2 linked regions of the Homo sapiens genome follow. The protein of the gene in region 1 purifies or fractionates together with the protein of each later gene. This does not show direct contact. Each region holds a gene or a part of one and is shown in the gene's direction. Other genes may lie near its edges.

Region 1 (8,075 bases):
GCCCTGGGGTGGAGGTCTTAAACTTTTTAGATTCATTGATAGTGCTGTGATCAAACAGTTGTTTCTTGGACCACTTTTGCCTAAGGTTTTGGAGCATTTCTTTAGTTTTTTCTGTTTTTGTTTTTTGTTTTTTTTTTTTTTTTTTTGCAGGGCCGGGGAGCTTACAGTGAGTCTTTGATGTTCATCCTGGCTACAAACAACCTCTTGTCCTGTTTTGAGCAGTGGTTTTCAACTTCTTCTTAACAAACAAAAAACCCAGCTGAATCATTTACTTAAGTTGAATCATTTGAAGAAACCCCAGAAAGAGACTAAAAATAGAAGCGTATGGTTAATGCCAGAAATTTGGTGGGGGTGGTGGTAGGGGATAGATAGTTGGGGAGATCAGGAAAGGGAAAGAATGAGTTCTAGACCCTGATTGCTTGCCCCTGGTCTCCAGAGGTGAGGAGCTTCTGAAATGCCTCAGAGGTTAGGAAACAGTTTGAAACCCACTGATTTGGAGGCCCACGAAGTCCAGCAGTGATAATTGGCATGAATGACAAGACCACTGGTGTCTCTGCTCTGCAAGTTCCCCAGTGACTTTAACACCTGCCCTGGAGTAATGATTTTTCAATTCTTCTTGAATCTAAGAACTAAGAACTAGGCCATCATTACAATTAGGACTTTAATAAACTCTCAGCTATCATTTAAAAACTCTCATCAATCACATTTGCTTTTATGTACACAGACAGGCAGTTTTTGTGTGAATTAAGTTGCCCTGACATAGATAATTTTATTAGTATAGACTAGCTCAAGAATTACAGTCATGTGAGGAAAAGCTTTGGAGTAGTCAGAGTTTTGGTCATGAACCCCTATAATGTTATGATGAATTTTAAAATACTTGATGTATGTTTAGTACTTACAGTATTATAATTTTAAATTTTAGTCAGCAACTGATTAAGCCCTGTTCTAGACACCACGTGGAGATACAGGGAAAACAGGACACAGTCCTTGACCTCACATTTGAGTCCCACTAAGAACAAAAAGATAGTGATACTTAAAATTTTTTCCTTTGTACTTTGTTTCAGCACCTGAGCTTTGATTTTGTGCATTTTTTAATTTTACTGACTTGTAAAGCATGTTCATGACTGAAAATTTAATAATTTAACCTTGTATGCTTTCTTTAAAATTATTATTAGATTGCAAGACTGGAGGAAGATAAAGAAGAACTACGTAACCAGCTGCTTAATGTTGATCTCACAAAAGACAGCAAACGAGTGGAACAACTTGCTCGAGAAAAAGTCTATTTGTGTCAAAAATTAAAAGGTTTAGAGGCTGAAGTAGCGGAATTAAAGGCTGAAAAGGAGAATTCTGAGGCTCAGGTGGAAAATGCCCAAAGAATACAGGTGCGGCAGTTGGCTGAGATGCAGGCTACAGTCAGATCCCTGGAGGTAAGATTCTAATTACTTCCCAGTAGAGTATGGCATACTTTTTTAAAGTGCAGTTGACAAGCCTTTGATTTTTAGAGCATAAATGTATGCCCCCCAAGCTAATGCTGATGCATTTGTGTAATCCCAAGAGTATTTATTCTTTTAGTAAAGAAGAAAGCTATTGATTCATAAGCAATACGTATGCTACCACATTTACAAAGGGGTATTTATTCTTTGGGAGTCAAGTCACCTATCTGAAATGTCTTAACTCTTAAAATGCCACATAATAGAATATGCAAAATAAAAATATATGTATTTGAGTTTCTGAGCGTAAAGTCATCTCAAACCAGAAAGAATAATTTCTTTCAAGATAGTACATTCCTTACACTGGGATTTGAGGTCTTAAAGTCACAAATCCTGTTTGAACAGAAATACCATACTGATGTATCTTACGACAGCTTCTTGCCAGAGTAGTAAAATCCAACTGTAAAGGTATACATGCCTTTACAGAATTATTTCCCTGGGTTCATTAGAGAAAGATAAGTGTTGGCAGACCTGACTGGTACTCCTACGGGTATTGCCTTATGAAAATTCTTGGTTTCCATTTTATTCAGATACACTTATTCTTCTTAGTTCTTAGTGCCTAACTTGTAGCAAACATACCTGTTTAATTGTTTTTATTTATTTTGTATAGTTCAAAGTGTTTCTTTTTCCTTTGGAATAGTTATAAAATGATTTGGGTGGGGGGGACATTAGCGGGCATTTAATTTGTAGTTAAAATCAATATCCAAATCCAAGATGGTGATTTTTTTTTTCCCCAGCCAGTGGTACAGGAGTACAATGGTATGTTTTGAAGAGTAGAAGTTACTTTTTATTTTGTTACATGACGCTCTGTCAGTATTTACTGGTTTTCTGAATTAAAAGTTGTCAGTATCATTGTACCTTAAACATGAAGCAGTTCATTGTGAGACTATTTATGTTGCCATCCTTCCATCCTTAATGTATTTTACACAGTGACAGAATAAGTGAGATGATTGCAGTTGAATATAGCATACAGTCCTGATGTGAAACTTTCCATTGAGGTCCTTTAGAGTGATTATTTTCAGGGCAAGTTGAATGATGACAGAAGATTTATTTGTGACATTTTCAGAAGAGCCTATATTTAATTTTATTATTTGTCAGATGAAATGAAAATAAGCGTATGACAGCAAGCATTTCTTTCTTCTTTAACTTTCTTGGCTATCATTGTGCCCAGAGAGTATTATTTCATATATGAAGAAAATAGTTTTTTTCCCTAATTGTTTGTCGAATATAGTCCTTACCACATTTAAGCTAGATGTTCCCCAACTTAAGGTGGTTTGACTTACTATTTTTTGACTGTCCGATGGTGTGAAAGCCATATATGCATTTATGTACTTTGAATTTTGATCTTTTCCTGGGTTACTGATATGTGGTGTGATACTCTTAATGCTGGGTAGCTGCACTGAGCCACAGTTCCCAGTCAGTCATGTGGTCATGAGGGTAAATAACCTCTTTACAGAGTACTGTGTCGCCAAATGATTTTTTCCAACTGTAGGCTAATGCACGTGTGTTGAGGATGCTTAAGTTAGGCTAGTCTAAGTTATGGACTTAGGTATTTTCAATTTGTGATGGGTTTATCAGGATGTAACCCCATCATAAGTCGAACAGCATCTATATGTACGAAATGAGATGTTATAAAACTGAAATTTATCCTTTAAATGCCAAAATGTCTTCATTTTAATTATGTTGAGGTCAGGTGTGGTCGCTTATGCCTGTAATCCCAGCAGTTTGGGAGGCTGAGGTAGCTGGATCACCTGAGCTCAGGAGTTTGAGATGAGCCTGAACAACACGGGTGAAACCCTGTCTCTACAAAAAGTACAAAAATTAGCCAGGTGCCATGGTGTGCACCTGAAGTCCTAGCTACTCGGGAGGCTGAGGCAGGAGAATTGTTTGAGCTTGGGAGGCGGAGGTTGTGGTGAGCCAAGATCGTGCCATTGCACTGCAGCCTGGGAGACAGAGCAAGACCTTGTCTCAAAAAAAAAATATATATATATATATGTGTGTGTGTGTGTGTGTGTGTGTGTGTGTGTGTGTGTGTGTATATATGTATATATATTATGTTGAATAGACATGTTTTTTCAAAAAAGATTTTAGTTTCCCTCCCCTCATGAAAGAGTACTATCGATATTACCATCCAGAAACTTTTTTGACAACCTGCAGACTTCATTAACAATCTTAATTGTGTCATGAGATCAAGAGCCTCTTTGCTCGTACTTAAAAAGTCTGCAGATGAGCTGAGGATTTTGAAATCATATCTTTCCCTGTTTCTTTTTTTAAAATCATTGATTTTAGATTTTCAATTTTTACTTGTTACTATCAATGAGCCCTGTCTTCTAGTTTCTAATATGCTTTTTCTTATCTGTTATAGACTGGAAACTTCCAAAATGTTTGAAATAAGTCAGTGTTAAGAGTAAATAGACATCAAATGAATGCCTTAGGTACTTTCTGTCGTGAGAGAAGTGTATAAACTTTATTTTATTGATGGTCATTCATATGTTGTTTGTCTAGATGCCTTTGTTGCATATTTCCTGGAACACTATCTTTCGTTTGAATTCTGCCAATTAGTTTGAGAAAATTTTTGTTACATTGGTATATGTTAAGTTGAGGTTTTGAATAATTTTAGTATAATTATAAATGTATTTTAAATAGTGCTTATTTGATTTTGAAATACTTGAAAAATGATGAATTTTAAACTATTTTGTTTGTATGAAAGGCTGAAAAACAATCAGCTAATTTACGGGCAGAACGTTTGGAAAAAGAGCTACAATCAAGCAGTGAACAAAATACCTTTTTAATTAATAAATTGCATAAAGCTGAACGAGAAATAAATACATTGTCCAGTAAAGTAAGTTGTTTTATGTTTCTGTTTCATTCTTTAGAATGTTTGTTAGTATATAATGATAAATTTTATTTTTAATAATTGATTTCTTTATACTGAAATGTTTTATTATATCATTCTGCCTTCTAAGAAATAAATACATTGATCAGTAGAGTATGTTATCTTATGCCTCTATTTCATTCTTTAGAATGCTTGATACTGTACAGTGACAAATTTTGTGTTTAGTTCTCTGTATTGAAATATTTTTAATCCTTTATCATTCTACCTTCCAAATACATGCAGAATCTGATCAATTCTTATGACATCCACTGTGACTATTCCAGTCCAAGCCATGATTTTTCTAGGCTCCATTTCTGTGCTAGGTTGCTAACTGGTCTTTCTGCTTTCTACCCATTCAGAGCTCTGTATGATCTGGATCCTGCAGTCTTTTCACAGCCATGACCTGTATTTTTCCTCCTGTTCACTTTGCTCCCTTTGGCCTTCTCACTCTTTGAGCAAACTCACATCTTGCTCAGGGTTTCTGCACTTGTCTGAGTTTGGCTCAGTCTTCCCTCACGTATCCACATAACTTGCTTCTTCACCACCTAGATGTTGCCTAACCAGGGAGGCTTTCCTTGTCTTCACATTGTAAAACAGCATCTTCCTTCTTCCTCTGTCTTTCTCTCTGTCTTCCTTACCTGCTTCATAGCTCTTAATACTATCTGATATAGTTATTTGGTTTTTATTTTTTGGTCTCTCCTTTTCTTTCCCACCACCTTCCCCTCAACCCAATGTAAGCTCCAAGAGAGCAGGGACATTGTTTTCATCACTACTGCTTTTCCAGCTTCTAGAATGGTGCCGGCACATAGTAGGTACTCAAATATTTCTTCAATGAATAAATTAGTAGTAGCAGCATGATCTACATTTATATTCTCCTTAACAGACTGGATTCAAATTCTGATTTTTTCATTACTAAAAAAAGCTGTGTGACCTTGGGCAGTTCACTGTCTCTCTGAAACTTAAGTGCCTTTGTCTATGCAATGGGACTAATACCTACATTACAGAGTTGTGGCAAAAATTAAATGTAGCTGATGATGAAAATGATAATAGCAGTGATTATACACTGGTGATATCCTTAAATAAGAAAATATTGTAACATAAAGAATACAGAATTTTTAGTCCATTGACTAGTCTGTGTCTCACTGTCTCAATAACTATGTGTAACCTAAGGCAAGTTACCTAATATCATTAGGATCCAATTTCCTTATATCTGTAAGAACCCTTCCAGCCTACTAAGACTGTGTAAGAACTACTAGGAAATAATTTGATTGCCTCCTGATTAACTGTAAGTAGATTATATATTCAACAGATACACATTGAAAGCTTATAACTATAGAGTATACAAAAAAATAGATACAAAACACAAGTAAATTCAGGATATGGGGAGTTTCCATGCTTTTCTTCCAATTCCAGTATAAATTATTTTCAATTTTGTGAAATAATATTGAGTACGTAGTATTTGCAGCACATTGTTCTTGACCTGAGTAGCCAGACTACACTGCTGGAATAATTGGAACCACAGATGTCGCAATAGGACATGGGATGTGCTGGCTTCTGCTGTGGCTTCTCTCTTGGGGGGGCCACCAAGTATAATACTTTTCATGCAGTACATTTTACCTGAGCTCCCTAGCTCACCTGTGTGCTGACCCTGATTTTTCTTCTTTTTTTCCATATATATATACTCTTCCCTATTGCTCTTTCCTCTTAGAGTTAGAGCCTAGGTGATTTCTCCTACTCCGCTGAAGAAAGAACAGCAATCTAGTATAGTATTTATTTCTCTGTGCTTGTTTATTAATACACATTGCTAAGAGTTGCCTGTCTTTTTAAAGGCACACTTGCCTTATTTTGCATATAAATGGAGTATTAAATACCATCCTTCAACTTTAAACAAACCAAGTTTCATTTGAAGTCTTGTATGTAAAGATTCCATTGGAAGGGTAGATTTTAAAATAATATTTCAAACATGACTGCCACAGTTTTCTTTGCAACTTGAAGTTTTCATCAACATTTTGCAATTCTAGCAAATGGTTGTTTGCAGTGCAAAGGAACACCTGGGGTGTGTTTGTCTTAGTTACTCAAATTCATAAATGTTTGTCAGATTTTAGAACAAAGTTATGTCAGTGTGAGTATCAGTGTCTTGGATTAAAAGGTATTACCAAAGATGGCCTGAAAATGATGACCTTAAAGAGATTTCACATTCAGTGAGGTAAATTCTTCTAGTTCCCTCATAAGGTTTTTCATTTTCAGAATGCCAATAAAAGGTAGTTTTAAGAAAGCCACCCAACAGAGTTGTCCTTATTTACCTAAATTAATTGGGTAATTACATCTCAGAACTTTGAAAAAGATCAAGATTTAAGTACCATCTCTTTGGAATCTGTATCCAGAGCTTCTTAGGTAATACATATTGTCAATTATATTTCCATTTCTTGCTTATTTATGCTGTGCTCTTGTGTGTCTTTCTGTGAGTATGTGTACTTTAACAGATACTGACCCCCTGTAAAATGCCCAGTTTTGCCAGTTTTGACATTTATTAAAGTTTTGTTAGTAATATCTGAATACTTCCATTGTGTCAAAACATAAAGCAAATTCACAACATAAAGGCCAGAATCTATATGGCAAACATTCTGTGAAGAACAGGGTGACTTGGTCCAGTGGAGCTTTAGGAGACCATGAATTGCTTGAAATTTTATGCAACATTTTAACATGAGCATTTTATTTAAAAAAAAAATCCCTAATTTTCCTAGGATTTGGGACTTGATCACAAAGAAGATTAAGAACCAAGGATCTAGGGGCAGAAAGAAACTTTACTGTAACATTTGGAATTTGGTTCAGATTACTCATAGAAAAGTGCTATTATTTGTCATTACTGGGTAATACATTTTCATACGTTAAGTAAAATTCCTTTTAGTATATTTTTAGGAAATTAACAGTGTTCATATAAGTGATGCATCAGTGATGTTAGGATAATAGAAATAAGGCAATAAAGAAAAACTTTAGATCCATAAATGAGTACATTTGAATGCAGAGAGGACAGGTAAATTGCTTGAGCATATACCACTGGTTTAACAGCAAAAGTAGGCCTGAAGACAGACCTCACTTGTTGCTTGACTTCCTATTCGGTGTTCTTTCAGTTTCAATAATTGTAGTTTAGTTAAAAATGTCGTCTCATTTCAGTAAATTTCAGGGTGAAATGAATAAGAAATAAGTTTTTGTAGATCTTTTACCATGAGATGAATCAACTTCCTATGAAATAAGATGGCTCTAATTTTCCACCTCATGCAGCTATAGTATGTTTGTTAATGAAATGCTGTGTCATTCTTAACCTTTTACAGTTAGTATATAATAGCAGGTTATAATTACATTTGTCATAGTGATTGGATTTTCTTTGTAATCATATTTCTTCAAAATTTTAAAGTATTTATAATTTAAATTCTATCTGTCCATGAAATTATAATGTAGTAAAATCCAATCTACAGAAAGTTTAAGTATTAAAACAAATTATCAGCTGTTGTCATGTAAACATCATTTTATAAAACTTGCTTTTATAGAAAATAACTTCCAAAAGGAAATTAAAACCACAGGCCAGGTGTGGTGGCTTAACGCCTGTAATCCCAGCACTTTGGAAGGCCGAGGCGGATGGATCACGAGGTCAGGAGTTCAAGACCAGCCTGGCCAAGATGGTGAAACCCCATCTCTACTAAAAATACAAA
Region 2 (8,075 bases), on another chromosome or scaffold:
TGGTCTCGAACTCCTGGGCTCAAGGGATCCTTTTGTCTCGGCCTCCCAAAATGCTGGGATTACAGGCGTGAACCACTACGCCTGGCCTTCTCTTAATCTAACTGTAGCCCTGTTCGGGGCTTCACCAATGGCTCTTGGTACTACTGTACCTGGGGCTTCCATATGAAGGAGTCCCAGGAATTTCTTTTTGCCACTCCCTGACCATTTTACCTACTTATATACAGAAGGCTTGGGGTCCCCAGCAGGTGGTTGAGCCAAGAGACCCTTGCCCATTTGCCAGTCTTTATCTTGACTCATCTACCTATTGTTTCCACAATTTCAGATCAGATTTCTCATTGTAATCTGCCTCCTGACTTACAATTTCTCCAAACTGGGGTAAATATAGCAAACTTGTTTGGAACCCCTTAATGGTGGGAGACCAGCAGGGTCTCCCTTTGGCTCCCAGGCTAGTCTTGAACTCCTGGGCTCAAGTGATCATCCTGTCTTGGCCTCCCAAAGTGCTGGGATTATAGGCATGAGCCACCACACCCTGCTACCTTACTTCTTTTTTTTTTTTTTTTTTTTTTTTTGAGACGGAGTCTTGCTCTGTCACCCAGGCTGGAGTGCGGTGGCGCGATCTCGGCTCACTGCAAGCTCCGCCTCCCAGGTTCACGCCATTCTCCTGCCTCAGCCTCCCAAGTAGCTGGGACTACAGGCGCCCGCTACCAAGCCCGGCTAATTTTCTGTATTTTCAGTAGAGATGGGGTTTCACCTTGTTAGCCAGGATGGTCTCGATCTCCTGACCTCGTGATCCGCCCGCCTCGGCCTCCCAAAGTGCTGGGATTACAGGCGTGAGCCACCGCGCCCGGCCTACCTTACTTCTTAATAACCATTTAAAAATTTCCACCTTCCGGGTTGAATCCATTTGCCCTCTGTCTCACCATTCTCTTAACCTAATGGTTTTATTAGCATCTGTAAGACCCACGAGAGGAAACTGAGACAGCACATTTGATAAGGCTTCTCGAACTGTCTTTTGATTTTGCAACAGTAAGGTTATCCACATTAAGGGGTCACCCTTAACCACAGCATTTACCATGACTGGGTAGTGGGCATATTCAGAGGGTAAATGTCCTAGTCATCATAAAGCCAGTTTCACATGGCTTGCATATGAAGTATATCAGTGGCTCTATCTGGATCTGGGGTGTTCCACTTGGCATTTATGGAATCAGACTGTCCCCTTCAGGAAGCTTATGATACTAATGTACAAAGTGAAACAATTCCTTCACATTGTACCCCCTGGTTTCAATAGTTCTTTGATTTTTGCAGACCACCTTCTTTGTTACCAGAGGTCTTAGAAGCACTTTCTGTTGTCCCGGCATACATTTTTCCCTTGAGGGACAGCTTTGAGGTTAGTGGCCTAAGCTCTCACATTCACTGAAAGCTGAGCTTGGTCTAGCGGGAAGGTCCAACCCACCACTTTCTTTTAATTTCATTTTAGCTGTTACAGATAACAATAACCAAGGGATTTAACATTTCGCTTTTTTTTTTTTTTTTTTTTTGAACCAAAGTCTTACTCTTTCTCCAGGGCTGGAGTGCAATGGCACGATCTCGGCTCACTGCAACCTCTGCCTCCCAGGCTCAAGTGATTCTCCTGCCTCAGCCTCCTGAGTAGCTGGGATTACAGGCGTGAGCCACAGCACCCGCCTAAATTTTTTGTATTTTTAGTAGAGATGGAGTTTCACTGTTAGCCAGATGGTCTCAATCTCCTAACCTCGTGATCCTCCTGCCTTGGCCTCCCAAAGTGCTGGGATTACAGGCGTGAGCCACCGTGCCGAGCCAGCATATCACTTTTTTAATACTAGTTTGCATTTCCTTGTGCATCCTGTGAACCAACTCCCAGGCAGTTGGATCCATCTCTGGATTCCATGGATAACTTTTACCTTTAGTAATTGATGACAGCACAGCTTCAGCTCTTTACCATGGGTGACCACTTGGCCACCTAAGAATCAAAGTTCTTTATCCCTATCCTTTTATCCTTTTTCTTCCCAAACCATATGTGTCTGTGAGCCAAGTCATTCTAGCAAATCCCAATTCTGACGCCAATTCTGAGAATATAGAATAAGAAACTTTAATAAGTTTATCTTATACTCTCACAATACAGAAAACTTCTGTGACCTCAGATGTGTGAGATTTTTTTCCCCACACACCAAGCAAGTAGTTCTTCAGCAGTGGACACTAGCTGTGTGTCCTCTAATTCAGTTCAATTCTGACACCTTTTTTTTTTTTTTTGAGACAGAATTGCTCTGTTGCCCAGGCTGGAGTGCGGTGGCGCAGTCTTGGCTGACTGCAACCTCTGTCTCCCGGGTTCAAGAGATTCTCCTTCCTCAGCCTCCCGAGTAGCTGGGATTACAAGAACCCACCACAACACCCATCTAATTTTTTGTATTTTTAGTAGAGACGGGGTTTCTCCATTTTGGCCAGGCTGGTCTTGAACTCCTGGCCTCAAGTGATCCGCCCGCCTCAGCCTCCCAAAGTGCTGGGATTACAGGCATGAGCCACCTCACCTGGCCAATTCTGACACTTTCTATCTGGAGGTAGTGTCAGATCCCACAGGTTGAGGGTTTAGTCCCAGAAGACTGCCCCCAACTCAGATGCCAATCTGAAGCCCCAGGTTTTTTTTTACCTGTGCTTCTGTAGGCTGACTATAAAAATGGGCATTCCTAATACCGCCCCCCATTCCCTGCCTTGGGTTTGATTAATTTGCTAGACCTGTTCATAGAACTCAGGAAAACACATTTTCCAGCCAGTTTATTATAAAGGATATTGCAAAGGATACAAAGAGCTATATAGGGTGAGGTATAGGGGAAGAGGCATGGAGCTTCCATGCCCTCTCTGGGCACACCACGCTCCAGGGACCACCATGTGTTCAGCTCTCAGCTTCTCCAGCAGCAAAGTTTTAATTGCAATAAATTTGAGTACCTTAATATTATGAACACTGTTCTAGGTTTTTGGTAAGCAATTAAAAATAATAAACAACTTTAACAGTGCCTTAGGATAAGTGTTAAAAATTTTGACAGGGAATGAGTATGTTAAGGTAAAGCCAGGCTCTCTTATGCTCCTTTAATGGGGTCTTATTCATTCATTGAACAGATATTGAGATTGATGCTTAATGTCTGTCACACATTGTTCTAGATTCAGGGAATACACTGGTGAACCAGAAAAAGACAAAGGCCCTGACCTAAGGGAGTTTGACAGTTTTATCTGTCAAACAATTTACTGTAGCAAATTATAGTTTCTGTAATCCCTCTGGGGTCAGCTCTGGTCCTTGAATAAAATACATGCCCAGATACTTTTACTAGCAGTAGCTAACATGTATTGAATGCCTACTGGGTCCCACATTTTGTTTAATTAATTAATTAATTAATTTTTTTGAGACAGGATCTCACTCTGTCGCCCAGGCTGGAGTGTAGTGGTGTGATCATGGCTCACTGTAGACTCAACCTCCTGGGCTCAATCTGTCCTCCCACCTCAGCCTCCCAAGTAGGTGGGCCTACAGGCACATGCTAATTTTTGTATTTTTTGTAGAGATGGGGTTTTGCCATGTTACTCAGGCTGGTCTCAAACTCCTGGGCTTAAGCAATCTGCCCTCCTTACCCTCCCAAATTGCTGGGGTTACAAGCATGAGCCAACATGTCCCGCTACATTTTATCTTTTTTTATCCTCACAATGTTTTACAGATGAGGAAACTGAGTCTTTAAAAGGCTGTGCAACATGCTCAAAATCATAGAACTAAGTGATAGAATCTGAATTCAAACCCAAGTCAGTCTGTCTCCAGGGCCTTTGCTCTTAACCTATGATTGTACTACGTGAAGTAGGGATCTGTAGGAGAATTCAGGAGCAATTTCTGGGTAGAATTCCCCCAGCCCCTTTTAAAAAAGTACTTCTATCGGAGATGTGATGAAATATGAATGACAGGCATGATAGTTTTTAGAGGAAAGATGGCATTTACCATATGGAAGATGGACAACTGTGACAGTGGTGGCGGTGGGTAGCTAAAGGGACGCATAAAAATTGAGTTCTTAATCTAATTAGGATTCTTGGTAGTCAATGTTGGAGAGTTTTAAGGTTTTTAAATGATTTTCCTATTCTTGCCTCTGGAGTTTAGAATACATTACTTAGCTCATTTCTATCAGGGCAGTTACTCTACCTACTTGATGTGTATAACTCCAACACATTACGCTTATTCTTTTCGGTCTTTGCATTCTGTTCTGGAACTTCTCACTTCACTCTACCCCTACCCCCAGCCTGTATTACTGGCACTCTCAGGCTTCAACTTAAATGTCATCTCCTTAAAGAGACACTTTTCTGAGCTCTGAATTAGAGGAGCCCTCTTGGTCACTTTTACTTCACTTTTCCTTATTTACTTCATAGCATATATTGTTATGTAATTGTTTATTGTTTGTCTATATATTGTTAGATTTTCTCATAAAAATGAAAGCAGAACATAGATTTTTTTTTTCCTTTGAGGTTACCTCAGTGACTCAACAATGCCTGCAACAAACTAGGTGGTCAAAAATATTTGTTGAACAAAATTGGCCAAAACTGGCATCATCTTCTCTGAACAAAAAAGTGATAAAAACAGTATCTGACTATTCAGTTGGCTGTGTTTCTGTGTCTTTATTTATTTTTTTTTATTTTTATATTCTAAAAATGTTGCGACAATGGTGGCTCAGCAATTTTTTTTTTTTTTTTTTTTTTTTTTTGAGATGGGGTCCCACTCTGTCTCCTAGGCTGGAGTGTGTTGGCCTGATCTCTGCTTACTGCAACCTTCACCTCCCGGGCTCAAGGGATCCTCTCACCTCAGCCTCTAGTGGCTGGGACTACAGGCGAGTGCCACCACACCCGGCTAATTTTTTTTTTTTTTTTTTTTTTTTTTTTTGAAGAGGCAAGGTATTACTATGTTGCCCAGGATGGTCTTGAACTCTTGGACTCAAGTGATCTGCCTGCCTCGGCCTCCCAAAGTGCTAAAGTGCTAGGATTACAGGCGTGAGCCACCGTGTCTGGCTGTCATTTTTTTCTTTTTGTGGAGACACAGTCTCAGTATGTTGCCTAAGCTGGTCTTGAACTCCTGGCCTCAAACAATCCTCTCGCTCCAGCATCCAAAGTGCTGGGATTACTGGTGTGAGCCACTGCACCAGGCTTGTTCCTGTGTTTTTGGGTGTAAGCAGTATCTTAACAGTCTCAATTAGTCTTAAAATTATTTTAGACTAGTTCAGAAAGTCTTTAAGAAAGCTAGAAAAATTATACATCTGAATTTTTTAAAAAAATTTTAATCTGTTTTGAGAGGTACTAGTCAAATACATTGTAAGATGTCCTTCTATTGGAATTTGTCTGATGTTTTTCTCATTAGACTGGAGTTACAGGTTTTGGGCAGGAAGACCACAGAGGTAAAGTGCCATTTTCATCACATCATATCAAGGGTACATGCTATCAACATGATTTATGACTTAATATTGACCTTGACTGTTCATATTGACCTGAAATAGTGTTTGTGAGGTTTCTACAGTGAATTTACTTTTTTTTCCCCTCCTTTTCTATACTGTATTCTTTGAAGGGAAGTCACTGTTTGCAGCCCACACTTAAGGAATGGGGAGTTCCTTGATCTTAGGGTGGAGTACCTACTTAATTTATTTGAAATTCTTGTCTCTCCTTTCCCATTTATTAGTTTAGTCAAGTATTTACTGATAATAGTGTGGACTCAAGTATATTTATTTTATATTTTAGGTTACACTCCAATATTACATTATTTTGTTGTTCAGGTTGTTCCAGCTTTGTCCTTTGGGAGCTTCCTGTATTCCTTTAACATACATGTGTGTGTGTGTGCGCGTATTTGTATTGATCTTTGAGTACTTCCTTACTATCTGGAAATGTTCCAGGCTCATCTTGTGTATTTCTTGTCCCAGTGCTAGAATCAGCCATTTCCCCAAGGTGCCCTGGTTCCCTTATTGGAGAATGCTATTAGAAACAAGACCTGGGTACTGAGTGTTCTCTTTGCTACTGGGGTGTCATTTCTTTTAGGTCCTTTCAACTGTTAGAGCAAAGAAATATATGAATGTATGCTAACCCCATGTATATAGACATATCTATAAATATTTCTCTATGTAGCCATCTGTGTCTATATTAAGTTAAACGAGTTCCATAGATCACTTTCAGTAGTATGGGCGGGGGGGAAAAACATGAGTTCCTACTGGTGTCTCCAATTCTGATCCATTATCACATAGATCATTCTAGCCTCCTCCCCTTGCTGATCTTTGAATTTCCATTCACAATAGTGAAAAACCTAATTTCCACCATCCATTTATTTAATTGTCCAGTTCCATTATATATGGATATACATACATGGATAGCAGTATCAGAATTGCTAACCCATACTCCATGAAAAAAACTTTATCAACTAGAGTACATACTTCTGTGCAGTTCCTTTTGCCCTTAATCTTTCAGACTCCACTCATTACCAAAGCTACTTAGGTCAGAACCTTTTTCCCACCCCCTTTGGTGAAGTTGTTTCACACATCTGTAATATAGATTCCCTTGTCATAGTCTTCATTCTTTTCTGCAATCTCCCAGTCTCCTAAATGACTTTTTAAAATTTGCATACATTAAAGTTCACTCTTTATGTCATAAAAGTCTCGAACTCCTGCCTTGGCCTCCCAAAAGTGCTGGGATTAACAGTACAACCCACTGTGCCCAGCTGACATAAATTTTTAATTCAGTTGGATAAATACCTAGAAGCAGGTTGCTGGATCATATGGTAAGACTAGTTATAGTTTTGTAAGAAACTGCCAAACTCTATTCCAGAGTGGCTGTACCATTTTGCATTCCTATTAGCAATGAATGAGAGTTCCTCTTGCTCCACGTTCTTAACAGCACTTAGTTCTATCTGGTTTTTGGATTTTAGCCCTTCTGGTAGGTATGTAGTGTCCCCACTTTATTATTATTATTATTTTAAAGAGATGGGGTCTCACTGTGTTGACCAGGCTGGTCTCAAACTCCTGGCCTCAAGCAATCCTCCCATCTCAGCCTCCTGAAATGCTAGGATTATAGGTTTGAGCCACTGTGCCTGACCTAGTGTTCTCACTTTTTAAAATTATTCGTTTTCACGACATTACCTTTTTTGAAAATAAATGTTAGTTTTTTAAGAGGAAACTTTTTAAAAATTAACTTTATTTTGGAATAATTATAGATTGTTCCAACAGAAAAGTTGCAAAGATGATGTGTAGGATTCCTGCATACCTCTCACCCAGTGTGCCCTGTTATTAACATCGTTTAAACAAACTCCAGATTCTGTTTGTGTTTCAACAGTTTTTCTATTCATGTGCCCATTCTGTTTCAGGATCCAATTCAGGGTAACATATTGCACTTCGTGGTCATCTCTATTAGCCTTCTCTGGTCTTTGGCAATTTCTCAGTCCTTCCTTGTTTTCATGACCATGACCATTTTGAGGAGTACTAGTCAGTTGTTTTGTAGACTGCCCTTCTCTTTGTCTTTGTCTGATATTTTTCTCATGATTAGTCAAGAATTACGTGTTTTTGGAAAGAATACCATAGAATACCATATCATATCAGGGGTTTTGTGATATCCATGTGACATCATTAGTGATATTAACCATGATCACTTGATTAAGTTAGTGTTTGCTAGGTTAAGTATTAAAGTTAGTATTTTTCCCTTTCTATAGCTATTCTTATGAAAATGAGTAGCCAGGTCTAGCCCACCCCCAAAGTGGGTGAAGGGATTAGATTCCACTTCCCGGAGTTAAGGGTATCTACATATATTCGGAATTTTGTAAGGAAGATTTGTCTCTTTTCACCCATTTATTGCTTTATTCCACTGTTTGTATCTTATGGACTAGTGTGTATGTGTGAGTGTGTATTGGCTTGTGTATATTTATTCTGTACTTTGAGATTTTATAATCTATTTTTTTCCGTCGAATAATTCCAGCTTTGACTGTTGGGAGCTCTTTTTGGTTGGCTCCTGTGTCCCTTTGACATGCCCCCATCTTTTTAATTTTTTTTTTCTTTTTGAACACTTTCTTATTT

Evidence for each region. The genes of interacting proteins can lie anywhere in the genome.
Region 2: the proteins of CEP83 (region 1) and CKAP5 purify together in Homo sapiens (affinity purification with mass spectrometry; 2 studies listed by BioGRID and IntAct, with this or other methods). This does not show direct contact.

Annotation. Positions count from the first base shown.
Region 1 is NC_000012.12:94,372,143-94,380,217, reverse strand, and holds part of CEP83 (centrosomal protein of 83 kDa), read left to right. Parts: intron 1-1,175; coding exon 1,176-1,427; intron 1,428-4,200; coding exon 4,201-4,332; intron 4,333-8,075. UniProt on the Homo sapiens protein: Component of the distal appendage region of the centriole involved in the initiation of primary cilium assembly.
Region 2 is NC_000011.10:46,835,461-46,843,535, reverse strand, and holds part of CKAP5 (cytoskeleton-associated protein 5), read left to right. Parts: intron 1-8,075. UniProt on the Homo sapiens protein: Binds to the plus end of microtubules and regulates microtubule dynamics and microtubule organization. Acts as a processive microtubule polymerase. Promotes cytoplasmic microtubule nucleation and elongation. Plays a major role in organizing spindle poles.